Linked DNA regions of Homo sapiens. The protein of the gene in region 6 interacts with the protein of the main gene of each other region in a biochemical or structural test. Each region holds a gene or a part of one and is shown on either strand. Other genes may lie near its edges. The genes, in order: FER, TXK, SHC2, TNS3, CRK, ERBB2 and PLCG2.

Region 1 (4,212 bases), on a different chromosome or scaffold from region 6:
TTCTGTGTAGAGAAGCAAGCACTGAACTGACTTAGCAGTTGAACTAGAGTCCATATGGTCTCATCCAGCAGTAAAACAGATTTTTGTGATCCAAGTCAGTTTTCTTATATTTTTTCCCGTCCAGGTACAAGATATTTACATGTATGACATATTCCACTGTGCAGTTTTCTAGCATGCGAGCTCTAATTCAGTCTCTCTCCTATTCAAGAAAGCATATTAGAATGCAGATGATTGAGAGTGACATCATTATGGGTATAAACTTGAATCTACTCTGATTTATTGGAGAAAGTGAGTCATTAAAAAATGTGGGCTGGGTGCAGTGGCTCATGCCTGTAATCACAGTATTTTGGGAGGCTGAAACGAGAGGATCACTTGAGCCTAGAAGTTTGAGAGCAGCCTGGGTAACATAACGAGACGGCACTCTACAAAAAAGTTAAAAAATTAGCCCGATATGATGGCATGTGCTTGTACTACTACTAAGGTGGCTAAGGCAGGAGGATTCCTTGAGCCCAGGAGTTCAATACTGCATTGAGCTATGATTGCAGCACTGTGCTTCGGCCTGGGCAACAGAGTGAGTCCCTGTCTCAAAAAAAAAAAAAAAAAAAAAAAATAGTGTGTAAGTATTGTTAGTAACAAGTACTGAAGACATACCTTACAATTCTGTAAGGGACCCAAGTTATTTCCACATTTTCCTGAAGTGAATGCCCCTTTAGTTTTTCTTATCATTCTTATAATGCTACATAAGAAAATATTATTACACTAATTTTATGTCATTAATAGAGACCTATATTTAAAAGTTAGAATAACTTAATGAACATGTAAAAATATTTAGGTAACAGTACCTCAGTCTGTATTGTGACTGGAATAACACTAATTGTTGTACAAAAATTGAAATTAGTTTTCTAGTGTAAATCATTTTGCTTGCAAAAAGGCTATTTCTATATTGGGACTCATGGTTTTAAGAGAAGTGGAAACAGTACTAGAATTTTTATTTTCTAGGCACTTAGAATGTAAAAATGCTCTTTACATTGGCTCAGTCAGAAAAGTATCTTTGCATTACCATGAATAGAGCTTAATTTTAAATCACTCATCCTATGTGGAAGTACCACGTATAATATACAGTTCCAAGTGAAGACTTAGTAGACCTTTGATATTTGCAAGTGGTATTTCCTGAAACCTTTGTGAATCTAGGATATAACCACCTCCATAAAATGCAGTCAAATTTAATGGAAAAGTTTAAGTGATCCCTTCAGACCCGTACAATCCGGTAAGGAGGACTCGAGTCATTAAAGCTATTAATTTTTTTGCTTCTGAAATGAAGACTAGACAACTTTGCATTACATTATTTGTATACAGGCAAGGTTCTTATTCTTGCCCCTTGTATCCTATAGTTTGCAGAATAAAAGAGCATTTCTGGCTTAATCACAAAGCTTGCTGCGTTGTCACAAGGTTTAGTCCTTGGTCGCTGTAATGCTTTTCTGTATGCTTCTGTTTCTTGGATGTTTTCTCCTTGGAGTTGAACACTTCTGTAGTATGTGTCCTTTCTCTGGATGTCTTCAGCTTGGGAGACTTTCCCAAGCTTCCGTGGATTGATGGGGCTCCCTTGTTAATTTCACATTCTACAAAGAAAAGTGCATTTGACTCTTCTAGCAGTGTTCAGGGTTTTTTTGTTGTTGTTTTTTGAGACAGAATTCCACTCTTGTTGCCCAGGCTGAAGTGCAATGGCACAATCTCGGCTCACCGCAACCTCCACCTCCCGGGTTCAAGCAATTCTCCTGCCTCAGCCTCCCGAGTAGCTGGGATTACAGGCATGCACCACCACGCCCGGCTAATTTTTTTGTATTTAGTAGAGATGGGGTTTCACCATGTTAGTCAGGCTTGTCACAAACTCCTGACCTCAGGTGATCCACCCGCCTTGGCCTCCCAAAGTGCTGGGATTACAGGCATGAGCCACAGTGGCTGGCTGCAGTGTTCAGTTTTGATAACAAATGGGTCAGTAGCCACCCTAGCAGCTATACCACATCTTGTTTTATGAAAATATACAGTATCAGCCGGGCACTGTGGGTCACACCTGTAATCCCAGCACTTTGGGAGGCCGAGGTGGGTGGATCACCTGAGGTCAGGAGTTTGAGACCAGCCTGGCCAACATGGTGAAACCCTGTCTTTACTAAAAAAATACAAAAATTAGCTGGGTGTGATGGCACGCACCTGTAATCCCAGCTACTTGGGAGACTGAGGCAGGAGAATTGCTTGAACACGGGAGGTGGAGGTTGCGGTGAGCCGAGACCATGCCATTGCACTCCAGCCTGGGTGACAAGAGCGAGAAACTCCATCTCAAAAAAAAAAAAAAAAATAATAATAATAAATACAATAAAAAGAAAATATACAGTGTCTTGACTTTCTCTTGAATTATTTTTCTTTTAGAATTACATGCTTTCTATGTACGTTCTTATATAGGTTAACCATTACTTAAATTTTCACTAAGGTTTTAGAAACTTTGCTTTACTAGGAGCAAAGGAAACATTTTCAGGTATCACCTTTTTTCTTTGTTTCAGTATAGAAGTGTGTGATGGACTTTGTAATATGGAAAATCCAGTCACTATCGCATTTCCTGACCATTCTGAATCTACTCCAAATTTATGTATTTGGCTAAGTACCATTACTTTGTGATGCCTGTTTACTTTTAATATATTTAATAAATTTGCTATAGGAGAGTAATTAAGGGGAACTAAACAATGTAGTTGTTTCAGATAATTATTAATGATAACATATAATGGTAATATGTAATTAATTATAGGTCAATATAACTTATTAATATACTATATAATTAATGATAGATCAGTATTTCAATTATTTACAAGCATTTATGTTGGGGATGATGTATGAGAATCTTTATGTAGATTTATATACAATAGAAAATTTTACAAAGGAAGAAGCCAATTTCTTTCTCCTACACACACACACATTTTTTGTTTTGTTTTTGTATAGTTCTTTTTTCTCCCCTCCTCAACATTTTAACCTCCCAGGTAGAGACAGTTTCTGTCAATATAAGTCTTAAGTCTTTTAGTAAATTACATGGCTTCAGATATAATGGTGGGGGCACTAACATTTCTTTAGTGCCTGCTAAAAGTGTGATGCACTTTTGTACATTTCTTTTGAATTTATGAATTTGATGGCTTGCATGTTCTTTTTGTGATCTGGAACCAATTTTAGGTCATATCATTTATCCAAGGAGACCCAGTTATAAAATGATACTGGGATTTGAACTTGGGTGTTTCATACTCTAAACCTGAAATAAATGTAAATGGTAAAAGTCTGTAGTAAACTATTAATGGTCCTGGATTTAATAGAAGTTTCAGCTATTTGGGAGCAACTCTAAAGGTCTATGTTGAAATATTTGCAGTTTTGCTGAGATTACTTCCTCTCATTAGAAGCAAGACCCTAAGATATTCATGCTCCTGGCTAACAGTCTTGTGTCTATATCTTGCTTTGGCTTTGTTCTGTTTGAGATTGTCCTAAACTATAACTTCTGTGAAGTTATAACATGTTTCTTTGTAAAAAAATTTCCTGAAAAAGAAAGCCAGCTGCTAGAAGTGGAGAGAGAATAAAGAGGCCTGAGAAGGTGGTGGATCTTAGCTAGAAAACAGACATTTTTGAATAAATTTAACAATGGAATGTTGAATTCAGTGAGTCTTTGATCTTGACGCACATCAATCCTCCATGCCTTAGAGGTAAAAAAAAGTTAATTTGTGAAACATTTTCATTGAGTGTTCCAGCTCTGTCAAAAATTCTCATGGTCTTTAGACAGACTTCTTGAAAATGTCAGGAATCTTACGTTCATAAATCCTGTCCTCCATCCCTTCTGTCGCACCCTCAACAATAATATTTGAAAGGAATTTGTTTATTAACAGCTACTACTTTCTAGAAGTTAATATAGTTCTGACAAATATCTTAAAATGTTAACATAAACAACAGTGTCCTAACTTCTGGGATAATAGGGGTTTGCTATGGTGACTATTTCACAATTAATCATAACAAATATAGGAGCTAGACCTTACCTTGGTGGTTGCCTGTTTTAAGTTTCTGATTTCTTTTCTGTATTTTGGAGCCTGGTTTACCCTGTGTCTGGAACTGGCATTCTAAGATCTAAATGTCTTAGCTTGGAGATACTTGCTATTATATACACTAATATCATGGATTTTGAAAGAGGAT
Region 2 (4,212 bases), on a different chromosome or scaffold from region 6:
TAACAGAAAAAGCTAACATTTAACAGGAGCTTCCTGTATATCAGATACTATGCTAAAAGATTTATGTTTATTAACTCATACAGTTCTCAAAACCACCTACTTTTTTTTTTTATGATCCCCATTTTACAGATGAGGAAATTGAAGATTAGAGAGGTTACATTGCTTACCCAAGGCCACACTATGAAATGGTGGAGCTGGGATTCAAACTCTTGTTCCTAATCACTATACCATGTCTATTTATAACAAAAAGACACCATCAAATGAGGTAATGCATATAAAATGACAAACACTGAGCCAGATATGGAGTAAGTTTTCATTACAATGATTATAACTTTATGCCCTGAAGATGCACCAGACTCTACTGGGAATGTGACATGTTTTCTCAATTTTATTTTATAACAACTCTATGCTCTTAGCACCTCTAGTTCCTGGAGAAGGAAACTTAAGTTCTTAAAACCAGTAATTTGCCCAGGGAGATGGAGTTAGGAAGCCTTCTAAATGAAAATGGAGTTGGAAAGAGACCTGGATTTTTCTGCTATTTCTGTGAAAATCTAGTGGATGTATAGATAACTTTTGTACAAATAATTATTTGTAACATGATTGCTTTTCAATGTCAGACAAATGAGAACACAGATAAGCCTGAGCACAGATGAAGAGCTTCCAGAAAAATACACCCAGCGTCGCAGGCCGTGGCTCAGCCAATTGTCAAATAAGAAGCAAGTAAGTATCATTTTGACAGGCAAGAGGGGAATGGAGAAGGTTGTCTTTTTAGAGTCTTCATTCATGAGGTGCTGTTTGTTGCCCAGAATCTAGTATCCTGCTTGGCATAAAATAAGTGCTCAGTAATTTGTGAAGGAATGTTCTAGAAGAAAGTAAAAGGAAAAAGAAAAGACCAGTTAAAATAGGCTACTTATATTTAAAGGCAGAACTTGAAAATGGGCAATGAGTGGGAAAAAACATATTCTGGCTTCTGTCATTTTGAGGCTGAGATTAATTTTCACTTCAGTGAGAAACAGCATTCTTAGGAAGTATGGTAAACCCAAGCACAAACTGCCACCACATAAAAAGAAAAAGGCCATTTTTCTTCTTTTAAGGAGAAAAAAAATCCTTAAAACAAGGTAAAACTATTGAAGAGGAGTACATCATCTTTTGAAAATTTTGATATGAAAAAAAATCCAGTAAAATGCTGTCAAGAGAACTTGTGATCTCAAAAGTGTACAAAATGATGAGTGTATTGCTGGATCCTAAAGGAGTTTTATAGTTAGTCCTTTTCTACATTTATCTCATCCTGGCTTCTGCCTTGGTGTAGCTGGATAAGAAAAGTGAGGCAGAAGGCAAATATGCTTTGTCCCTATATTTTTTAGTACAAATTATTAAAATGATAGTAAAACAACTCACTTATTGGTTTTCACAGTCCAACACGGGCCGTGTGCAGCCGTCAAAACGAAAGCCACTGCCTCCCCTCCCACCCTCTGAGGTTGCTGAAGAGAAGATCCAAGTCAAGGCACTTTATGATTTTCTGCCCAGAGAACCCTGTAATTTAGCCTTAAGGAGAGCAGAAGAATACCTGATACTGGAGAAATACAATCCTCACTGGTGGAAGGCAAGAGACCGTTTGGGGTAAGACACTTACATGACTTAGTCAGTATCCAATTCTTCCAACACAAAGAAGACTACTTAGTGACTCAGGCTTATAACTCTTCCCTCTGCATGAAATGGAATCTGTCCCCTCTCCCCCAGGATGTGTGAGAGAATGAGAGAACAGTGATTTCAGGCAGAGTCTCAGAACCAGATACACCTGGCTTCACATCCTGATGCTGCCGCTTACTATTGTGTGTCCCCGGGCAAGTCACTTACCGTCTCTGAGTTTTTGTTTCTTTATTTGTACAATGGAAATAATAATTCTGACAATGTAGGTTCTTATTCTAATTTGTGCTTTCATTTGGGAATTTGTCAGTTTTTTCCTGTTAAGCTCTAAGGTAAGAACAGAAATAGTATTTTATTCACTTTTATGTTTCTAGAATGACTAGTTTTGAAAGCAAACATTGCAGTCGCTGCTGAATTAGATTAGAAAGAAAAAAGACCCTGGGATGCAGATAGGTTTCATTGTGCCAATTGCAACAGATGGTTAATGCCTGACTGGAGTCCTGAGTTGAGAAGAATTCTGAGGAATATCTGGACTTCCTGAGAGAGAAGGCTGGCATTGATTTCTGATATTTGCCAAGATTTGGAGATTTTAAGTATCTAAGTATTATAAGCATGTAAATTACATACCTCTCCAACTACATTTTCTCAATGATGTGGCTCTCTTAACAGTTCTCAACATGTGGTGGAGACTTTTCAGTGGAAAAAGAGGCATTAGTAGGTTCAGGACTGTGTAATTAGCCACACCTGCGGGTATACTATTGGCATGCCTCAGACTTAAAAATTGAATTTTTTATTTCACAGTAAGTGAATAGAGTTTTTAAAAATATATAATATGCAAACATTAATGTCAAAATTCTGCTTTGCCACTACCTCCAAACCCAAGTGTCTCCCCAAAAGTAAATACTATTATCCATTTTCAGATTATTTTCAGTATACTTACATGCACATATCAAAATATATGGTATTGTTTGTAGAATTCATTTACCTAAATCTTATCTTACTTTCTGCATGATTCTGCAACTTACTTTTATTTCTCAATAATATGTCTTGGAGATCTTTTTGTAATTTCAAATGTTGGTTAAGGTATAGGAAAAGTGAAACTTCTACCATGCTGATAGGTGTGTAAGTTGGTATATCCTCCTTTGAGGACAATTTGTTGCATATCCTGAAAGATGTACATATCCCGTGACTTAGCAATTCCCGTCTTTGCTATCTGTCTTTGAGAAATATTCTTCTGTACAAGAAGGCGTGTTCAAGGATTTCTTTACAGCGTTGCTTCTACTAGCAAAGTAGCTAAACTAGAATACCTATGCTATGGAATACTCCTCAGCAATTGAAAAGAATGAAGTCGATGTCTTTGTAATTGCTGTGTTTTTAACATAATCACTATGATATCAGATGATCATTTAAGTGCCCCTTTTTCTCTCTGAAAAGATTGTGGGGTCATAAAACCTCTTAAACTACTCACATTACAAGTTGGCATCTTAATACATTCCTTGTACAGAGATTTTTGTTGAGTTAGAAATAAAAAAACTTTTTTTTCTCCTTTTAACAATTTAATCAGTAAAATGAATTTGATTTCCCCCCTACATCCTTGAGGTTTTAAAAGGATTGTTGCCATGATAATGCCACAAACATGCCAAGCATTTTGATTTTTGCTTTTTCTTTTGTTGTAGGAATGAAGGCTTAATCCCAAGCAACTATGTGACTGAAAACAAAATAACTAATTTAGAAATATATGAGTAAGTCTTCTCCAAAATATAACCTATGAAAATCAGGGACATTTTGGCAGCTTGTAAGTATAGATACTGTTTTGGGTCTGTAGAAGGAAAAAAAAGTAACACATTTGACAGCGTTAATAATAAAGAGACGTTTGATCCTTATCATGGTTGATTCAGAAACTTCTTTTCCTTATACTTATTTTTGTTCTGTTTTGTATAGCCACTTTTTCTGTTTTAACAGTGACAGCCTGAACCCAAACACTCATCTGGCACTTATTTTACTATATATCTTAACTGGAAAATTTACTTTAAAAAATGACATTAAATTTTCAATGAGTGGTAAACTTAACCATATAGATAAAGTACTATATTTTGGCTTATGTTTTTATATGTTTTAGAAATAGCTGACGATAAGAACTAGGCTAATGCTGTAGTTTGGAAGAACTGTTTGGCATGTTCACTAGAGTTCCGCCTGAAATCTATTTTTGTTACAATTACAGATTTGGAAGATGGAGGAAATCTTAGCAATCACTTTTTTAGCCCCTCATTTTGCAGATGAGAAGACTGATAGATTACAGGTAGAGAACGGCCTGAGACTAGTCATATGTTTTTTATAAATTTAGATTTTCAGTTTGAGCATCTCCCCCTACCTTCATCCCACTTGGGCACTTATCTTAAAATTAGCATATGCTTCCACCAGGTGGCAGTAGGTAATATGCATTGAGGCATTAAGACAAGTGCTTCTCTGAGAACCAGGCAGCAAATACAATTGAATGAGAGAACCTCCTTGGTTGGTCTTGCTACTAATAAAGCCCACCTGGAGGCCTAACTCAGTACATCTCTC
Region 3 (4,212 bases), on a different chromosome or scaffold from region 6:
TTTCCTCTCGTGAGCTGCCGTGGGCCACAGAGGGTTTGCCCCCCACCTCCCCCGTGCACTAGGCTGGTGTCCCCACAACGGGACCCATGGACCACACAGTTCAGGGTTTCAGCCGCACAACCGGAGTGGGCTACGTGTTAATAAGGGGGCAGGTAAGGGAATGAGAATCCCTCACCCTATGGCCCTGTAGCGCCAGACACTGGCACAGACATCATCCCAGAGGCACATGCTCTGCCTGAGAGAAGACAGCCATTGAGCAGCCAGCATCCCACCAAAGCTGCCTCCTCAGTGGGAGAATCCAGTGCTAGGGACAGGGACCATGGCTAATTCCTTTAGGTATGACCTGTCTACTACATGCCTAGAGTCCATTCATCTGTTCATCCATTCATCCATCTACTCATCCACCCACCCATCCATCCATCCATTCATCCACCCACCAATCCACCCATCTGTCCACCCATCCAACCATCCACCTGTCCATCCATCCACCCTCCATCCATCCACCCATCCACCCACCCATCCATCCATCCGTCCATCCACCCATCCACCTACACATCCATCCACCCATCCATCCATCTGTCCATCCATCCAACCATCCGTCCATCCATCCACCCTCCATCCACCCACCCATCCATTCACCCGTCCATCCATCCATCCATCCACCCACCCATCCATCCATCCACCCACCCATCCACCTACACATCCATCCACCCATCCATCCGTCCATCCATCCACCCATGCACTCATCCACCCACCCATCCATCCACCTATTCATCCACCCACCCATCCATCCATCCATCCACCCATCTGTCCACCCATCCAACCATCCGTCCATCCATCCACCCACCCATCCACTCACCCGTCCATCCATCCATTCATCCACCCACCCATCCATCCATCCATTCATCCACCCATCTGTCCACCCATCCAACCATCCATCTGTCCATCCATCCACCCACCCATCCACTCACCCGTCCATCCATCCATTCATCCACCCACCCGTCCATCCACCCATCCACCTACACATCCATCCACCCATCCATCCATCTGTCCATCCATCCACCCATCCACTCATCCACCCACCCATCCATCCATCCATTCATCCACCCATCTGTCCACCCATCCAACCATCCATCTGTCCATCCATCCACCCACCCATCCACTCACCCGTCCATCCATCCATTCATCCACCCACCCATCCATCCATCCGTCCATCCACCCATCCACCTACACATCCATCCACCCATCCATCCATCCACCCATCCACTCATCCACCCACCCATCCATGCACCTATTCATCCACCCACCCATCCATCCATCTGTCCACCCATCCAACTATCCATCTGTCCATCCATTCACCCATCCACTCATCTACCCACCCATCCACCCATGCACTCATCTACCCACCCATCCATCCATCCATTCATCCACCCACCCATCTACCCATCTGTCCACCCATCCAACCACCCATCTGTCCATCCATCCACCCTCCATCCATCCACCCACCCATCCACTCATCCACCCACCCGTCCATCCATCCATTCATCCACCCACCCACCCATTCATCCATCCATCCACCCACCCATGCATCCATCCATCCACCCATCCACCCACCCGTCCATCCATCCATTCACCCACCCATCCATCCACCCATCCACCCACCCGTCCATCCATCCATTCATCCACCCACCCATCCACTCATCTATCCACCCACCCATCCATCCGTCCACCCGTCCACCCATCCACCCACCCATCCACCCATCCACTCATCCACCCACCCATCCATCCACCCATCCATCCATCCATCCACCCATCCACTCATCCACCCACCCACCCACCCGTCCATCCACCCACCCATCCATCCAGCCATCCGTCCACCCGTCCACCCACCCATCCACCCATCCACTCATCCACCCACCCATCCATCCACCCATCCATCCATCCACCCATTCACTCATCCACCCACCCACCCACCCGTCCATCCACCCACCCATCCATCCAGCCATCCGTCCACCCACCCACCCATCCACCCACCCACCCATCCATCCACCCACCCATCCATCCATCCATCCGTCCATCCATCCATCCACCCATCCACCCACCCATCCACCCACCCATTCATCCATCCATCCATCCACCCGCCCATCCATCCATCTGTCCATCCATCCATCCACCCATCCACTCATCTACTCATCTACCCACCCACCCATCCATCCATCCTTCCACCCTCCATCCATCCACCCACCCATCCATTCATTGTCCATCTGCCTGTCCATCCATCTACCCATCCATCCATCATCCACTCACCCATCATCCATCCGTTCACCCACTCACCCACCCATCTATTCATCTTCCATCCATTCTTTCATTCATCCATCCACCTGCCATCTTTCTGTCAGTCCATCCACCCATCATGCATCCATTCAACAGGAGGTGAGGCTGCTTAGTCCATGCCCTGCTTAAGTGCTCCCTGGCTCCCCAGCTGGCCCAGGATGAGCCCCTGCCCGTCATCACAGCCCAGGTCCTGTGGCCTCTGCTTCCTGCCTGCATTCTCACATCTGTCTCTGCTCCTTGCTCTCCCTGCTCCAGGTACATGGAGCCGTGGAGAGGGGCAGAGCCTGGGCCGGCCCACACAGTGACCTGTACACACCTCAGAAGCCCTCAGGCTGATGTATCTGTGGGGTAAAGTCCTAAAAATGGAGCTGCAGGGTCAAAGTGTTTGCGTGTTGATCATTTAAAGAAACTGAGGTGGACTTCACATAACGTTATTCATCATTTTGCATGTTGCATTTTTCACAGTTCAGTAGCATTTCGTACATTCATAATATCGTGCCACCACCCCTTCTGTCTAATTCCAGAATTTCTCATGACCCCAGTAGGAAACCTGTTCGTGTCAGCCTTCATTCCCCGGCTCCTGGCACCCACACATGCTCTTGCTGCCTCTGTAGGACATTTCATAGAGATGACGTGGGCTGTGCCCCTTACCCTCCCTCCAGCAAGGGCCAACGTTGGAAGGACGCTGTGGCCTTCGCCTCCTGGCCCTGTTCCCCCACCCTTTACGGCACTGAAGCAGGTCAGGGACTCGGTGGGACGCCTCTGCCCCTCTCGTCCCTCAGTATTATCAGTCATTGAGATGGTGAATTCCCTTTTCATGGAAACAGCTGTCTGGGCCAGAAGCCCGCAAACTTCCTGTGGAGGGCGAGGCCAGCAGTGTGTGCATCTGTGGCTGCCCTGGACGTCTGCCCCACTGTTTGCCAGACCCTGAACTGGGCGCTGGAGATAGGGAAGTGCTCAGGATCGCACCATCCCCACGCTCCTCGGCTTCGGTGCTGGTGGAACAGAAAGAGACCGACGAGGGCAAGACGGTTAAATGAACAAGCAGCATAGAGCGTCTGGGGGAACCACCAGGCTCCTGAGAAACAGCAACACAGAAAAACATGCCTGGAGTCAGAGGGGGCGGCTCGCAGGACAGTGTCAAGGCTGGGCCTTGAGGTGGGGGAGGCACGACGGCCCCAGAGCCACCAGGGACAGAGGAAAGGGCTCGACCCCAGGGGTGGTGGAGGCGGCGAAGGGCTGCTGGGAAAAGGGACGTGGCTCCACTGCGGGGGTTCCGATGGCATCTGACACCTGTTCTCTCCCCTCAGTACATGGGCTGCATCGAGGTTCTCCGCTCTATGCGCTCCCTGGACTTTAACACGCGCACGCAGGTGACCAGGTGAGCCTCCAACCCTGCCCTGGCCGCGTAGGGCTGAGTGACGCACTGGAGGGCGGCAGCACTGGAGGGCGGCAGCGATGGGCTCTCCGACAGCCGCGCTGGGGTCCCAGGACGCAGCCTCGGTGCCCCCCACCTCCCTCCCACTTCACGCCACGTCTCCGCCCTGTCCCCACGCCAGGTGTCGGTCACCGTGCCCTGCAGACCTCGATCCTCTAAGATGGAAAGAACACGCCGGTCGCTCACAGGGTGCTGGGCAAGTCCCCGCACGGCGTGGGGTGCAGGGCCTGGCGGGTTCCCTCTGGGACCGGGGCCCAGTGGCGTCTCCGTGTCCCTGCTCTGTTTTCCACACGGTGACCTCAGGATGCTATGCGGTGTCTGGAAAGCAATCACAGGGGCTGTGGATATGGCCAGGGCTTAAGCAGGGAAGAGAGCGACACCCTTTTTTTCTGTGAAAACTGGTTGATTCCATTCGTATAGACTTAAAAAAACCATGTGAG
Region 4 (4,212 bases), on a different chromosome or scaffold from region 6:
AACATATAGTAGTCTCTTGGCTTAGGTTAACATATAGTAGTCTCTTGAGGTTAATATGTCTTCCAATTGATTGAATTCAATCCTTAGTGATTCCCTGTTCTTGCTGCAAAGAAACAGTTATAAGGCCTGGAATTTTCGAAAGCCACATCATATTATCCACCCTCAGTTTGGCTGTTTTTAAATTACTTGGTAAACTCATTACTTTATTTTTTTATTTATTTTTTTGAGACAGAGTCTCACTCTGTCGCCCAAGCTGGAGTGCAATGGCGTGATCTCAGCTTACTGCAAGCTCCACCTCCCGGGTTCGCACCATTCTCCTGCCTCAACCCAGTAGCTGGGACTACAGGCGCCCGCCATCACGCCCGGCTAATTTTTTTGTATTTTTAGTAGAGATGGAGTTTCACCATGTTAGCCAAGAAGGTCTCGATCTCCTGACCTTGTGATCCGCCCCCCTCGGCTTCCCAAAGTGCTGGGATTACAGGCATGAGCCGTTGCTCCCAGCCAAACTCGTTACTTTGAGAACACTTTTTTTTTTTTTTTGAGATGGAGTCTTGCTCTGTCGCCCAGGCTGGAGTGCAGTGGCACAATCTTGGCTCACTGCAACCTCCGCCTCCTGGGTTCAAATGATTCTCTTGGCTCAGCCTCCCGAGTAGCTGGGACTACAGGCGTGCACCTCCATGCCTGGTTAATTTTTGTATTTTTAGTAGAGATGGGGTTTCACCATATTGGCCAAGGTGGTCTTGAACTCCCGACCTCACGATCTGCCCACCTTGGCCTCCCAAAGTGCTGGGATTACAGGCATGAGCCACCGCGCCCAGCCCAATAACACATTTTGATTTTGATTTTAGATACTCTTTAATGCGTTTTATTATAAAAGTTATTTAATTATCATTTTGAAGTCTAAGGACTTTCATATCTCAACAACAGACCAGTAAAATTCAGTGCATATTTGGGTATTGACAATACAAATTTAAAGTATTTATTAATCTATTCATATTTGACAGGCATCTGGGGCCATTGGTCCATTTTTTTCATAGCTTCAGAACTAAAAAGATGTCAGAAGATTAGGTATAAGCAAAACTGGTTACCAGTCTCCCCAGAGCTTTTTAAAATTGGGAAGTGACCTTCTTGTAGGAACCCTGCCACACATGAGCAACTGTCCATGAGCAGTGATGAATGGACACTGAAGGGTTAGCCGCAGCATTGGAAACAGGGCAGAGTGAGCCATGCCCTTCCTGGGAGCTCCGCTTCCTCTTCCAGGACGTGCCTCTTGTGCTAGGTAAGCACCAAGCTGGGAGATGGAGCAAGCCTTGAGACTTGCACTTCATTTAGTGTCAAAAGCCTGCACAGTGTAGAGGTGGTCTCTGAACAGCCTGCATGGCAGGCTTTTGGATCTCAGTCCAAGACTTTCTGACCTGATAGAAATCCCATTAAAAGATGCTTACTGGGCCGAGGCAGGCAGATCACCTGAGGTCAGGAGTTCAAGACCAGCCTGGCCAACATGGCAAAACCCTGTCTCTACAAAGTTACAAAAATTGGTCAGGCATGGTGGTGCATGCCTGTAATTCCAGCTTCTTGGGAGGCTGAGGCAGGAGAATCACTTGAACCCAGGAGGCAGAGATTGCAGTGAACTGAGACCGTGCACTGCACTCCAGCCTGGGTGACAGAGCAAGCACTCTGGCCCAAAAAAAAAAAAAAAAAAAAAAATTATTGCTTACTTCTGTAGCTCTCAGGCACTGCAGCTAAGCAAGGAAGGAATTGTTTCTTCCCTCACTAGCAGGTATAGAAAACACTGGAACTCTTTTGATTTTAAAATTTAAATTTCAGTATTGACATTTCTCAATAGGAAATGGCTACTTTGGCAAGCGGCAGAAAACAAAAATTACTAGATCCTAGCAGGGACACGCGTACAAGTGTGGTAGCAAAGCAGCTAGTTCCGAGTCCCTGGGACATCGTCAGAAGGTTGGGGATGCTGCTGGAGTGCCTGCACTTTGAAGGTGTCCTAGATCCCTCAATCCATATCCGTCTCCTCAGCCAGCCAAAGGAGACCAGGGCTGTTGAGCTGGAGCCCTCCTCTTTCAGCTTAGATCCATGTGTGAATAGGAAGGATTCTGGCACGTCCAAAAGGCTCATGACATGCCCAGAATGGTACCATCACCTAACCCTGCAAGGGGCATCATTTCCACATCTGTGTGCATGAGGTTCAGCCCCATAGATAGTGTGGCATTGCCTGACTGACTGGAGACTACCTTGAGTCTCGCTCACAAGGGGAAACCATAGACTGGAAGTTCTGAGAGCACTATGTCTACATGAGCCCCTTCTTGCTGGCCTGCCTTCCATCTCATCCCTGGACACAAACTGCTACACAACTTTCTTAATTCTGACTGTGGATGAAGGTTTGTCACAGAGACCTCAGCATCCTGAAGTTACCAGAATCTTTCACTATTTGCAGATTATGTCCTCATTATGAGAAAGACCACCACTTGTGGTAGAGAGTTGGGAATAGCATTGCCCTGTGCTCCTCCGGGGGACTTCTGTGCATCCTGCATTATTTATGAGATGAAAATTATATGTGAAGGCTAAGTATTTCCTGAGAAAGTCTTTCATACCAGCACCATAATAATAATAGTGGTGCTGCTGCTGATGGTGGTGATGATCACAGTGATGGTGATGGTGATGATGATGGTGATGGTGATGATGGTAATGACTGTGATGATATTGATGGTGGTGATGGATATGGTGGTGGTGTTGATTGTAATGATGGTGATGTTGATGGTGGTGATGATGTTGATGTTGATGGTGATGACCCTTATGATGGTGATGACTGATGATGATGATGGTGATGATGACAGTGATGATGGTGATGATGATGATGATGATGATGGTGATGACTGTGATATTGATGGTGGTGATGGTGGATGATGACGGTGATGGTGGTGATGATGTTGATGGTGATGGTGATGACCCTGATGATGGTGATGACTGTGATGATGTTGGTGATGGTGATGGTAAATGACTCTGATGATGGTGGTGATGTTGATGGTGGTGATGATGTTAATGGTGGTAATGGTGATGTTGATGGTGGTGATGGTGATGGTGATGACTGTGATGATGTTGATGGTGGTAATGGTGATGGTGATGATGACAGTGATGATGGTTATGACTGTGATGATGGTGATGATGCTGATGGTGGTGATGATGCTTTGGTGATAGTGATGATGACGGTGATGACTGTGATGATAGTGATGATGTTTATGGTGGTGTTAGTGATGGTGATGTTGATGATGTTGGTAATAGTAAGAACTGTTACTCTGAGTGCCTACACTGTTTTAGGTACCTTCATTTCACCAGGACACGTAACAGAGCTCTCGTCTCTCTGACTCTGCACCCCATGGCTATGTCCTAATTCCACTAAACTCACACTCTTACACCAGCCAGTAAACCTGTTGAGGGAAGTGCTCATTATTTTTTTTCCCTGGCATGCAGGAAGAGTTCGACATATGTTTGCAAATACAGGGGTCTGGGACAGGCGGAACTGCAAATGATCCTTTTGAGACCTGAACTACTCTGCTGAATGGGCACTGAGGGGAGATTTATCGCTGGACAGTGTAGAGTAGCCCTGCCCACCTACAAGATCAGAGAGAGGCCCTCCAGAGGTGGGGTATCACAAAGCTCTGGTGGCTGAGACCTGGGTGCTCTGTGTGCCAGTGAGCACAGTTTTGTATCCTTCTTGTAGAATGGGTGAGATTCAGGGAGTTGGTTTGGGGACATTTTACTCCCCACAAGTGCCTGCCAGCCATGAGGCCCTGCTCCCTCACTCTGGTCTGACTTCTGCTGCCACTGGTGTTTTGTGGAAGAGCCCCTGGGTGCTGCTGCCAGGCTCATTGTCCCCGCCCCACTCTGGGTCTCAGCCTGGTTTCAGCCTGCACGTGGTGGGTTTTTTGTATCATACCCTTTTAAGTGGGAGAATATTTCAACTGATGATATCCCAGTAACAAAAGAAATGACTCAACCTGTGAAATTCATGATTCCGTGGGTGGCAAAAAGCCAGTTCTGTGGTTTTTTTTCATACCTTGAGGGCTCTTTGCTTCATGTTGTCAAAATATTTTATTCATGTTACATCAACCTCCACCCTGTGATGACAGCAACCTGGCAGGCCCTGTTCTGCTTGCAGATAGTGCTGTGGCATTCCCACCAGGCATTTAATGTCCC
Region 5 (4,212 bases), about 38 Mb from region 6:
TGCTGGGATTACAGGCCTGAGCCACCGCGCCTTATTTTTTAAACTTTATTTATGTTTTGAGACAGAGTCTTGCTCTGTTGCCCAGGCTGGAGTGCAGTGGGACGATCTCAGCTCACTGCAACCTCCCCCTCCCGGGTCAAGCCATTCTCCTGCCTCAGCCTCTTGAGTAGGTAGCTGGGATTACAGGCATGCGCCACCACTCCCAGCTAATTTTTTTGTATTTTTAGTAGAGATGGGGGTTTCACCATGTTGGCCAGGCTGGTCTCGATCTCCTGACCTCAAGTAATCCACCTGCCTTGACCTCCCAAAGTGTTAGGATTACAGGCGTGAGCCACCGTGCGCAGCTGGGTATTATTTTTAAAGGCATGGGTACAGAATGGGCCAGTGATTCTCAGCCTTTTCCGTTGAACCTGTTTTTAACTTGTCTTGGGTCCTCAGCTTGCATAGGCTTCCTGTGGTGCCATAGCTTGGGAGTTCCCTGGGGCCATAAGGAAGGGCTTGGCCAAGTCTACTGGTCACATTCTGTCAGGTTGGGCTTCAAGATGGACCTCCTTGGAATGCTTGCAAGAAACTAGTTTTTTTTCTCTTGAACAGCTAAACCTTTCAGGTTGACACAGCTGAAGGAGTGTGAGTTAGGAGAGTCGTTATAAGCTTGAGCTGTGGATCCTGGGTTGGGCCTTATTTACCTACCACTTACTGCTTGTGTAACTTTGGGCAAATTGTTTAACTTTTCCCTGCTTCAGTTTCCTCATCTGTGAAGGAGGGAAATAGTAATACTGATCTCATAGGGTTGTTGGAATGATACTCCATATTCAGTACTGGCATACTAAGTACTCCATAAGCATTTCATGTATACGAATCTTAATAACATAACTGAGGTGTGGGGGCTTTTGAAGCAAAATGGAAAACTTCTTATCTTTGAGAGGCTGTGGAATTCATGCTGTGGATGGTAGGAACTGGTGAAACAGTTTGTCTTGGGGAGTAGGTGCCTGGGTGGAGTGCATCCGTAAGTGTGAAAGGACCTCGGGTCCAGCACTTGGAAATAAGATGGTGCCTCCTGTTACCTGCTCATCCGACCTGTTGCGCTAGTGGGTGGAGGGGGGCATAAAACGTGCTTCATTTTGAAGGCGTGGGACAGAAGCTAGGGTGGTAATAGTTTGTGATACTCCCTCGAGGTAGTGAAGAGCTACATGCCAGGCTGGCAGCTGGGCCAAGCCACTTCTGGAGGTAGCGTGAGACTGCTGATGGCCCTGTTGCTCAGGCTGGTGTGCAGTGGCTCCGTCATAGCTCACTACAGCCTCACTGTATGACCCAGGCTGGGCTTGCACTCCTGGCCTCAACAGATGTCTCCCTAAAGATTGGTTAATCAGTTTTTAAAAATAGAGAAAAAAATAAAGAGATCCTCCTGCCTCAGCCTCCCAAAGTGCTGAGATTACAGGTGTGAGCCACCGCACCTGCCTGACCACAGAACTTTTGAGAAGCATCTTGAGATCCTGTGGAATTTTCTCTGGGAAACGGTCCAGTGGGCTCTGGATTTGAGGATGAATTGAAAATTGCTGAAGGAATTTGGAGAATTGGTTGCTTTTTATTGAGCACCTATAATGTACGAGCCACTTTTTCTTTTTTTTTTTTTTTTTTTTTTGAGATGGAGTCTTGCTCTCACCCAGGCTGGAGTGCAATGGCATATTCTCGGCTCACTGCAAGCTCTGCCTCCCAGGTTCAGGCAGTTCTCCTGCCTCAGCCTCCCCAGCAGCTGGGACTACAGGCGTGCACCACCATGCCCAGCTAATTTTTGCATTTTTAGTAGAGATGGGTTTCACCATGTTGATCAGGCTGGTCTTGAACTCCTGACCTCAGTGATTTGCCTGGCTCTGCCACCCAAAGTACTGGGATTACAGGCGTGAACCCCCACGCCCAGCCTCTAGCCACTTTAGGAACTTTATTTATTAGATAGGTATTTGACCCCATTTTGCAGAGTCGGGGGTGAGGCACACAGAAGTTAGGTAACTCAGACAGCTAGAAAATGAGAGCCACAATGCACCAAACCTGCAAAGGACCGTCCTCATACCCACCATCTTTAGAACATTCTATTTGCTTAGGAGACCATATATCTTCTCAGATGGAAACCAGTGGCCTTCTGTCGCCCAGGCTGGAGTGCAGTGGCGCGATCTCTGCTCACTGCAAGTTCCGCCTCCCGGGTTCAAGCGATTCTCCTGCCTCAGCCTCCCGAGCCAGTGGCCTTTTTAGCGTTTTGTATTGGTGGGTATTTATCTAAGCAACCCCTGTAAATACCACAGGCAGAGAAGGAAGGGAGGGAGCAAGAATTGAGGAAAAAAGGGAAAAGAGGGCCGGGTGTGGTGGCTCGCGCCTGTAATCCCAGCACTTTGGGAGGCTGAGGCTGGCTGATCACTTGAGGTCAGGAGTTCGAGACCAGCCTGGCCAACATGGCAAAACCCTGTCTTTCCTAAAAATACAAGAATTAGCCAGGTGTGGTGGTGGGCGCCTGTAATCCCAGCTACTCGAGAGGCTAAGGAAGGGAGAATTGCTTGAACCCAGGAGGCAGGAGGCAGAGGTTGCAGTGAGCTGAGATCGCACCACTGTACTCCAGCCTGGGCAACAGAGGGAGACTCCGTCTCAAAAAAAAAAAAAAAAAAAGGAAAAGAGAAAGTGCTGTGAGATCAAGGAGAGCCTGGCCCGCTCTTGTAGACCCGTCAGAAGTGATTGGGCCTATTTTAGCCCACAGAGCCCTCAGGTGTTCTTCATGAAACCTTCAGGGAGGGAGTGGCCTTGTAAAAATGGTCGTAACCTGAGGCTTGAAATGCTTGGAAGGCTTAGAAGTAACGGGCTGAGCAGGTACCGAGAAGCTGAAAGGATATCCTCTCCTTGCATTGATTTTGATTTCCGTTTGTGTGACTTCCTAACTCCACGTTCAGAATCCAGCACAGGGTGATGTAGAACAAGTCATTGAGGTTTTCCAAGTCCCAGATAGCTATGAGAATCCTGTCGTTGCTTCTGTTCTCTAGACTGGCTGACTGTGCCTCCTTCCTTTCCCGCCCTTCTATTTCCTGCCTTTGGCTGTTTGTGGTTGGAAGGAGAGGAAAGAGAGAAAAGGAGCCGGAACACACAGCCATGGTGAGGTTTGGGCTTATCTGGGACTTATGTGTGTTCTGTTCTCCTCCCTTCCTTCTGGAGTTTGGATCAATGAAGCTTGATGGCCCCCAGCAGTTCACAGAAACGGGCATTTCTCTGTGAAATTATTACAGTGTCAGAATAGAAAAATAATTTATAAGTAAAGTACATCAAAGGTTTTCCGTGGCGTTTTGCTTACGTTTCTGTGTCTATTGGGATTGCCAAACAAAAAGAAAGTCACGGCCGGGCGTGGTGGCTCACGCCTGTAATCCCAGCACTTTGGGAGGCCGAGGCGGGCGGATCACGAGGTCAGGAGATCGAGACCATCCTGGTTAACACGGTGAAACCCCGTCTCTACTAGAAATACAGAAAAAAAAACCCGGGCGTGGTGGCGGGCACCTGTAGTCCCAGCTGCTCGGGAGGCTGAGGCAGGAGAATGGCGTGAACCCAGGAAGCGGAGCTTGCAGTGAGCCGAGATGGCGCCACTGCAGTCCAGCCTAGGCGAAAGAGCGAGACTCCGCCTCAAAAAAAAAAAAAAAAAAAGTCATAGTGAGCCCAGTTCACGCTATTGTGGCATTTGACCAAGAAGAGAATTAAACCTGCTTCCTACCTTTGCGCCAGATGATCTGCCAAGTTTTCTCTCACTCATCTTTCAGAGCGACTTGGCTTAGTAGTCTCATTTGTTCTTTCCCCGCCAAAATGTATTTCGCTCGGCCTGCTATGGTAACAGTGGCTGGCAGGGGGTGGTTACCTTCCTTCTTCCAGTGGAGAGAGTACCTTGGAAGTGTTCACAGATGGTCGTAGTTGCTCATGGCGATTCTGTTGTATCTCAGGACACAGTGCGTTATTCCAACTGTCTTTAGCAGGAACATAGATCCAGGTGAAGGTGAAAGCCGGGTGGGAGGTTGTCTTCCTAAGACGTGCCGCTTTCTCCTTGTTCACCAGCCACACTGTGCTTGCTGTGTTATCTCCAACAATGCTGTGAACTTCTCTGAGCTTCTCCAGTCTAGGAAGGCATTGTGCTTAGCTTCTTTCCATCACTTCAGAGTTAGGCTTATTAAGATAATATCTGGCTGGGCGCGG
Region 6 (4,212 bases):
AAAGCAAGGTGCAGACAGTGCTCCCTATATGTTCCCATTTACAGAAACCAACCTCCCCACCAAAACGACGAAAACCACACTTCACTGTGTGTGTGTCTACAGATGCATAAACGGTCTAGGTGAACACACACACTGTTAACCATGGCCCCCTCTGGAAAGGGGAGTGGAGGTAAAGGAAGTGTGAAAGGGAATTTTTTTTTTTTTTTTTTTTTTGAGACAGGGTCTCATTCTGTCACCCAGGCTGGAGTACAGTGACATGATTTCAACCCACTGCAACCTCCACCTCCCAGGCTCAGGTGATTCTCCCACCTCAGTCTCCCTAGTAGCTGAGACTACAGGTGCGTACCACCATGCCCGGCTAATTTTTTGTGTTTTTTTGTAGAGATGGGATCTCACTATGTTGCCCACGCTGTTCTTGAATTCCTGGGCTCAAGCAATCTTCCTGCTTCAGCCTCCCAAAGTGCTGGGATTACAGGTGTGCACCACGGCGCCTGACCCTTTTTTTTTTTTTTCTTTTTGAGACAGGGTCTCACTCTGTCGCCCAGGCTGGAGTGCAATAGCGAAATCTCAGCTCACTACAACCTCCACCTCCCGAGTTCATGCAATTCTCCTGCCTCAGCCTCCCAAGTAGCTGGGATGATAGGCGCATGCCAGGAAGCCTGGCTAATTTTTTATATTTTTTAGTAGAGATGGGGTTTCACCATGTTGGCCAGGCTGGTCTTGAACTCCTGACCTCAAGTGATCTGCCTGCCTCGGCCTCCCAAAGTGCTGGGATTACAGGCGTGAGCCACCGTGCCTGGCCCCAATTCATTTCTTATTGAAGTATAACTTATATACAATAAAATGCACCGGGTGTGGTGGCTCATGCCTGTAATCCCAGCACTTTGGGAGGCTGAGGTGGGCGGATCACGACGTCAAGAGATCGAGACCATCCTTGCCAACATGGTGAAACCCCATCTCTATTAAAAATACAAAAATTAGCTGGGCATGGTGGCACACACCTGTAGTCCCAGCTACTCAGGAGACTGAGGCAGGAGAATTGCTTGAATCCAGGAGGCAGAGGTTGCAGTGAGCCAAGATCGTACCACTGCACTCCAGCCTGCTGACAGAGTGAGACTCTATCTCAAAAAATAAAATGAAATAAATAAAATGCACAGACTCTTATCACACAGTTTGATGAGTTTTGACAAATGGATTCGCTCATGTATCCACTACCCCAATCACTATACAGAGCATTTCTATTACCCCAGAAATGTCCTTGTGTGCCTCCCTTTTGAAGCCCCCCACCCTGGGGCAACCACCGTTCTGATCTCTCCCACCACAGAGTGGTTTTTTCGGTTCAGAGCCTCACATAAAGGGGATCAGACAGTATGGAATCTTGTCTCTGGCTTCTTTTGCTCAATGTAATGTTTCTGAGATTCATTTATGTTGTATCGGTAGTTCATTTCCTTTGGTTGCTAAGTAGAACTTCACCAAATGGATACACTGCCACTTGTTTATTCCTTCACCTAGTGATGCACATTTGAGTTATTTCCAATTTGGGGATATTTTGAATAAAGCTGCTATGAACTCAAAGGGAATTTTACTTTATCTAGATGGTCTGACCTCCATACAAGTCCTTGTTCACGGATAGCATGTCATTTACAAAAATAATCACCCCCACCCACCAAAGGCCCTGCTCCTCTGGTCTCCCATCTGCTTTCTTTGCATTCTTGATCCCCCCACTTCTGTCTCCTGCCATCCCCAAGAGATGCTGCCACATCTGGATCCTCAGGACTCTGTCTGCCCTGACACTGTCTCAGGTCATCGTGCCCACTCTTACCCATCAAAGCTCTCCGGCAGAAATGCCAGGCTCCCAAAGATCTTCTTGCAGCCAGCAAACTCCTGGATATTGGCACTGGTAACTGCCCTCACCTCTCGCAAGTGCTCCATGCCCAGACCATAGCACACTGAGGAGGTGGGGGTGGGTGGGGAAGGGGCCGTCTCAGCCTTCATACCGGGACAGGTCAACAGCCACATGAGCATCAGGGTCCGGGCCCCTCCCCACACTGACAGGGGATATAGGGACACTTGTAGGGCTGAGGGGGGCCAGGGGTAGAGAGTAGAAGGCAGAGACTAGGTCCCAAGAGGGTCTGAGGAAGGATAGGACAGGGTGGGCTGGGCCAGGCTGCATGCGCAGAGGGACAGGAACTGCAGCTGGCCTCGGGGGCAGTGAGTGGGTACCTCGGGCACAGGGCTTGCTGCACTTCTCACACCGCTGTGTTCCATCCTCTGCTGTCACCTCTTGGTTGTGCAGGGGGCAGACGAGGGTGCAGGATCCCACGTCCGTAGAAAGGTAGTTGTCTAAGGAGATCAGGAACATGTAGCCACATACCCTGGCCCTTCGTGCACCACCATGAGCAGCATTACCGTGCCCAGGCACAAGAAGAATAATATCAACCAATACTTAAATGCCCTACCACGCATCAGCACCTGACATCCATTTACCCCTCACAACAACCAGACGGGATCAGCACTGTGAGATTCCCATTTTGCAAAAAGGGAGACCAAAGCAGAGAGTTCTGTAAATTATTCAAGGTCATTGTGCTAGTGAGTGGAGGAGCGAGGATTTGAACCCAAATGGTCTGGCTCTACATTTTGTCCTCTCCCTAACACAGTCAGCCAGGATCTGAAGGCCCACTCCTGTTCCTGTGAGAGGAGGAAAGAGGTTCCCCAGGTCTGAGCCCAGTCCATAAACGCCCATCAGTAAATAGGTGATCTGTTAAATAAAACTGAGCTAGGCCAGGCACGATGGCTCATGCCTGTAATCCCAGCACTTTGGGAGACCAAGGCGGGTGGATCACTTGAGGTCAGGAGTTCGAGACCAGCTTGGCCAACATAGTGAAACTCCGTCTCTACTAAAAATACAAAAATTACCCAGCCATGGTGGTGCATGCCTGTAGTTCCACCTACTCAAGAGTCTGAGGCACAAGAATTGCTTGAATGCGGAAGGCAGAGGTTGCAGTGAGCCAAAATTGCACCACTGCACTCCAGCCTGGGCAATGGAGCGAGACTCTGCCAAAAAAAAAAAAGTCCGGGTGCAGTGGCTCACGCCTGTAATCCCAGCACTTTCAGAGGCCGAGGCAGGTGGATCGCCTGAAGTCAGGAGTTCGAGACCAGTCTGGCCAACGTGGTGAAACCCTGTCTCTACTAAAAATACAAAATTTAGCGAGGCATGGTGGTGGGCGCCTGTAATCCCAGCTACTCAGGAGGCTGAGACACGAGAATAGCACGAACCTGGGAGGCGGAGGTTGCAGTGAGCCGAGATCGCGCCACTGCGATAGAGCTAACTAAATTCGGTCTCAAAAACAAAACGAAAGGTAAAACTGACCTCACCAGGCTATAGAATAAAAGCTAACATTTAGGAGCACTTAGTACATACCAGGCACCGTTCTAAGAGCTTTACAAATATTAACTCTTTCAAATGTTATAACCATCTTATGCAGTTGGGACTATTCTTGCCCCCATTTTACTGATGAGGAAACTGAGGCACAGCAAGAGGGTCACGTGCCTACTAATTGATAGAGCTGGGTTTCAAACCCAGGCAGTCTGGCTCCCAAGTCTGGGCTCTTAGCTGCCTCTCCTTACTGCCACCTGCTCCACAGCTGTTGAAAGAACAAGGCAGCTCGGCAGGAACTGTCATGACCAGCTCTCAAAGCAAGATGCAGACAGTGCTCCCCATATGCTCCCATTTACAGAAACAAACCTCCCCACCAAAATGAGAAAACTGTGTTTCTCCCTGGCACTCACAGGGACAGGCAGTCACACAGCTGGCGCCGAATGTATACCGGCCCTCGGGATTGGGCATGGACTCAAACGTGTCTGTGTTGTAGGTGACCAGGGCTGGGCAGTGCAGCTCACAGATGCCACTGTGGTTGAAGTGGAGGCAGGCCTGGGGGGACAGGTGGCTGGCTTTCACTGTGCTGTTTTGCCCTGGTGTGCCAGGGGCAATAGGGCAGTACCAGGCAGGGTGCCCACCCCTTGCATCCTGGGGGGTAGAGCACATTGGGCACAAAGCAGAGGCACATACCAGGCAGTCAGAGTGCTTGGGGCCCGTGCAGCCGGCAGCACACTGCTCATGGCAGCAGTCAGTGGGCAGTGGCCCCTTGCAGCGGGCACAGCCACCGGCACAGACAGTGCGCGTCACTGTTGGGCAAAGGGCAGGATGAGGGC
Region 7 (3,660 bases), on a different chromosome or scaffold from region 6:
CCCTCTGCCTAAAACTGTCTCCTTCTCCTGGTGCTACAACCGGAATCCACCATGAGAGAGTACTTTCTTCGGTTCTTTCCTCCTGTCCTTGACAGAGTAACACGTTAATCTGGTTCTTGGTGGTGTTAGGGACTGATTCTCTCAGGAAAGGCACACATGGTATGATGGCTCTTCCCAGAGTCTATGTGATGCTACATAACTTCAGTATCTAGCTGAGACATGCTTCCTACATGACTGTTAAAGCACAGCCAATCCAGGCCAAGAAGACTAGTAACAGGCACATTCTGAAAGATGGAAGCAGCACTGATAGATCAAAACCACCACTGCATATGTATTACACTGTTTTTGTTCACCATTTTCCTAAGTGTGTTATTTAGAATATTGGTTATTACAAGGAAAAATAAAGTGGGGAGGCTGGTTAGGCCTTGTGAGTTTGGGAAACTTAGGTTATAAAAACTAAATAAAGTTTTTCTACTGTGAGACTAGATGTGCAGGAGTGAAAGGTGTAGAGGGTCTTGTTTTCCAAATTCGATCTCAGAATCTTTTTGCCAGAAGTGTCTCATGGGACTTATCTATAGTGGAACACATTTGAAGACCTACTGCTCTATTAAGAAGGCAGCCGGACAACATGTTCTAATACTTCGTATGCTTTGTGACCTAGTTAAAATCTAAACTTAAGTCGCCATGGCCAGTGGCCTTTAGATTAAGCTAGCCTTACCCCTGGGAGTATACCAGAGCTTTCCAAGGAATACACAGACTCCAGTACTCTCAGGGGAGCAGTGTTCAGAGCCTCATCTTCCTGTTATATTCTTCTCTAAGATTCATCTGCCTGAGAAAATGCCCTTTTCTCACCTTACAAAAGAAAATATGGCTGTCTCCACCTCTAGTCTTACTGTAGAGCATGTCCCAAGGTGTAAAAATTCAAAATGTGGATATTTGGAAAGTGAAAGACTTATCAACAGGGCACAAATCTTTTTGCAAATGGATTTTCCAAGTTTTTCTGGTGGTTCCAAATTTTTTGCTTTCAACAAAGTGGGAGGAACAGCCTGTAGATTTCTGAGTCTCTTAGCATGTAACTACAAAGGGGTTGGAAGAATTCAGTGATTCTGCTATCATAAAGCTTCCGTTCCCATTGATGTATCTGTGTGAACAAGGATCAACATCTCCATAAATGAAATTGAAAACGGAAAATAGAATTGATGATGAACTTTGGCTCAATCTTAAGATGTTATCAATCTACATAGATGAAATAATTGTGGAGAAAAGCCCTCTTTATCTCATTAAGTGATACATTTCCAAAGAAGTTTTACTATGTTTAATAATTTAGTGAAATTTGGGCTATGTGTTTATTGATTCAGCTCAATCCAGAGGAAAATTTTAAAGGCTTACAGCCTTAGGATTATAGGATACTATATAATACTTTTGGTACAGAGATAGAATTAAATAACATAAAAATCAAAAATTTATTAGGCTAAAATTTTGAGGGAGAAGTGGTATGAAAATACAAATTCAAGGAGTAAAAGGAAAAGTGGGGCATTCCTTGCTACTAAAAATTGCCTTGTTCCAGGTAAGACTGATCATAAAAAAATGGCCCTGTTCATAAAATTTTTAAAAAGATCATAGTATCTATCAAATAACTTATATTAAGAACCTCCTGGGCTAAATTTAAAAAGTAATACAACAGTTTTATTTAAACATGTAGTGTCTACGGTATGCCAGCACTTTGCAGCTATTTATAATGAGAAATTTTAGATGTCAATATAGCAATGTGCAAGAAGATAGAGATTTTCAAAATTCACTTAAGAGTATCTGAGCATAAAATGTTAAGATTGCTGATCGGATGTGAGGGCGATCTGGCTGCGACATCTGTCACCCCATTGATCGCCAGGGTTGATTCGGCTGATCTGGCTGGCTAGGTGGGTGTCCCCTTCCTACCTCACCGCTCCATGTGCGTCCCTCCCGAAGCTGCGCGCTCCGTCGAAGAGGACGACCAACCCCGATAGAGGAGGACCGGTCTTCGGTCAAGGGTATACGAGTAGCTGCGCTCCCCTGCTGGAACCTCCAAACAAGCTCTCAAGATTGCTGATCTAGGGCCACTAAGTGATGAATTGTATTTGGAAGCAAAAAGGATGGCTAAAAAGGACCTCAACCCTTTTGACTTTAAAAGGAAAATAGCTTAACCTTCAACCTGTGTGACATTTAACTTTTTGAACCCAACCGTAAAAGCTATCTTCTAACCAACAAAAAGTTAATAATTAGATTTGGAATTATACAGAATTAGAAAATTGGCATTTAAAAATACTCAATAATTTGTCCCTGGTTTTTAATTTTCAAAATATTTTCTTTTTGAAGAGCCAGATTCCAGTGATCCTGCCTCTCAGAAATTTCCACATTTCTTATTTTTCATTAGGCCTTAAGAAGCTGCATTTGTAAACTTGTGTTTCATTATTAAAGCTTAATTTATTTTTTATATAAATAGTATGTGCTTTGTGTACATAGAGAATTAAGTGAATGAGTCACACAGATGTTGGCTGTTGTTAATGTGAAAATTAAACAGCTGTATCACATTTTGAAAAATAAAAGTTTCATCTGAATGAATATAGCAATCTGCCCAGAACTTTTTTTAAAAACTGCTATTCACCTTTTATATTCCCAAATAAAACACACACACACATACAATAATTTAGTCATGAGATAGGTAGAGTTACAGTTATTTTTTGAAATGTGTTTTACTATCCTATTTATCCCACGTTTCTTTGGGTTACAGGTTTATCTTCAGCAAAAACTCACTCTGTGTTGAAACTCAAGTTTGTACGATTAATACTTGAGTGCTCTTCAATTTATCAGTTTTGAAAGAATGTTTAGTGTTGGAAGGAGCGAGGACCTTATAGTAAGTCCCTGTATTTCTCAGCTGAGTGATAGGCTCCCTAGAACTGTCAATCACTGCGTTTCTTGCCAACAATCCCTGGTCCACAGGAAGCCATGTTGTATCTCATACCTCTGACCCCCAACCCCCAGCCCCCAGTGGTTGGATTAGTTACCCTGGTCCAAAGATTTAATAATAGCCTATGACAAACCTCTGCATTAGAAGATGAGCAAGGAATAGTAAAAAGCAAAGATGAAATTAGAACTGCCAAATGACCACTTTTTAAATGGATACAACCATAACTCTCATAAAGATATATAATGAACATATGTCAGAAATCTTATTAATTAACAAAGGAACCAGTGAGATGTTCCAGCTTGTTTAAAGGAGAATGCAGAGAACAATATATATACATACAGTATAGGTTATCCGCTATCCAGATTATCTGATTTTATACGGTTTCTCCACGTTTTATTGTCCGAATAATGCAAATTATTCCTGTCCGTAGAAATGCAAACTGTGTCCTGTGGAGATTCCATTGATCATTCCCTTGTGGATACTGATCACTGGTTTTACCAGTTTTATATCTATTAAATTTATTTCAGCATCGCTGATGGATGTGAAATCTGACTCCTATCTTACTCCACACACAAAAATCAAGTCAGTTAGATTATAGATCAAAATATGAAAGATAAAACAATATTTCTAGAAGGTCTTCACAACATCGGCGTAGGGAAAGGTTACTTAAACAAAACTACAAAAGCAGCATCCCTGAAGGAAGACTGCTAAATTTG

The links.
Region 1: the proteins of ERBB2 (region 6) and FER form a complex in vitro, tested with the Homo sapiens proteins (2 studies listed by BioGRID and IntAct, with this or other methods).
Region 2: the proteins of ERBB2 (region 6) and TXK form a complex in vitro, tested with the Homo sapiens proteins (2 studies listed by BioGRID and IntAct, with this or other methods).
Region 3: the proteins of ERBB2 (region 6) and SHC2 form a complex in vitro, tested with the Homo sapiens proteins (2 studies listed by BioGRID and IntAct, with this or other methods).
Region 4: the proteins of ERBB2 (region 6) and TNS3 form a complex in vitro, tested with the Homo sapiens proteins (2 studies listed by BioGRID and IntAct, with this or other methods).
Region 5: the proteins of ERBB2 (region 6) and CRK form a complex in vitro, tested with the Homo sapiens proteins (2 studies listed by BioGRID and IntAct, with this or other methods).
Region 7: the proteins of ERBB2 (region 6) and PLCG2 form a complex in vitro, tested with the Homo sapiens proteins (2 studies listed by BioGRID and IntAct, with this or other methods).

What each region holds. Positions count from the first base shown.
Region 1 is NC_000005.10:108,753,821-108,758,032, forward strand, and holds part of FER (tyrosine-protein kinase Fer), read left to right. Parts: intron 1-4,212. UniProt on the Homo sapiens protein: Tyrosine-protein kinase that acts downstream of cell surface receptors for growth factors and plays a role in the regulation of the actin cytoskeleton, microtubule assembly, lamellipodia formation, cell adhesion, cell migration and chemotaxis.
Region 2 is NC_000004.12:48,109,715-48,113,926, reverse strand, and holds part of TXK (tyrosine-protein kinase TXK), read left to right. Parts: exon of another isoform or gene 1-185; coding exon of another isoform or gene 186-265; intron 266-617; coding exon 618-720; intron 721-1,414; coding exon 1,415-1,620; intron 1,621-3,323; coding exon 3,324-3,389; intron 3,390-3,397; exon of another isoform or gene 3,398-3,923; coding exon of another isoform or gene 3,924-3,946; intron 3,947-4,212. UniProt on the Homo sapiens protein: Non-receptor tyrosine kinase that plays a redundant role with ITK in regulation of the adaptive immune response. Regulates the development, function and differentiation of conventional T-cells and nonconventional NKT-cells.
Region 3 is NC_000019.10:440,365-444,576, reverse strand, and holds part of SHC2 (SHC-transforming protein 2), read left to right. Parts: intron 1-2,948; exon of another isoform or gene 2,949-3,492; intron 3,493-3,644; coding exon 3,645-3,715; intron 3,716-4,212. UniProt on the Homo sapiens protein: Signaling adapter that couples activated growth factor receptors to signaling pathway in neurons. Involved in the signal transduction pathways of neurotrophin-activated Trk receptors in cortical neurons.
Region 4 is NC_000007.14:47,361,773-47,365,984, reverse strand, and holds part of TNS3 (tensin-3), read left to right. Parts: intron 1-4,212. UniProt on the Homo sapiens protein: May act as a protein phosphatase and/or a lipid phosphatase. Involved in the dissociation of the integrin-tensin-actin complex. EGF activates TNS4 and down-regulates TNS3 which results in capping the tail of ITGB1.
Region 5 is NC_000017.11:1,446,051-1,450,262, reverse strand, and holds part of CRK (adapter molecule crk), read left to right. Parts: intron 1-4,212. UniProt on the Homo sapiens protein: Involved in cell branching and adhesion mediated by BCAR1-CRK-RAPGEF1 signaling and activation of RAP1.
Region 6 is NC_000017.11:39,710,059-39,714,270, reverse strand, and holds part of ERBB2 (receptor tyrosine-protein kinase erbB-2 isoform a precursor), read right to left. Parts: intron 4,186-4,212; coding exon 4,070-4,185; intron 3,932-4,069; coding exon 3,790-3,931; intron 2,344-3,789; coding exon 2,224-2,343; intron 1,950-2,223; coding exon 1,823-1,949; intron 1,119-1,822; coding exon of another isoform or gene 1,002-1,118; intron 1-1,001. UniProt on the Homo sapiens protein: Protein tyrosine kinase that is part of several cell surface receptor complexes, but that apparently needs a coreceptor for ligand binding. Essential component of a neuregulin-receptor complex, although neuregulins do not interact with it alone.
Region 7 is NC_000016.10:81,960,088-81,963,747, forward strand, and holds the end of PLCG2 (1-phosphatidylinositol 4,5-bisphosphate phosphodiesterase gamma-2), read left to right. Parts: 3' UTR 1-2,598; downstream 2,599-3,660. UniProt on the Homo sapiens protein: The production of the second messenger molecules diacylglycerol (DAG) and inositol 1,4,5-trisphosphate (IP3) is mediated by activated phosphatidylinositol-specific phospholipase C enzymes. It is a crucial enzyme in transmembrane signaling.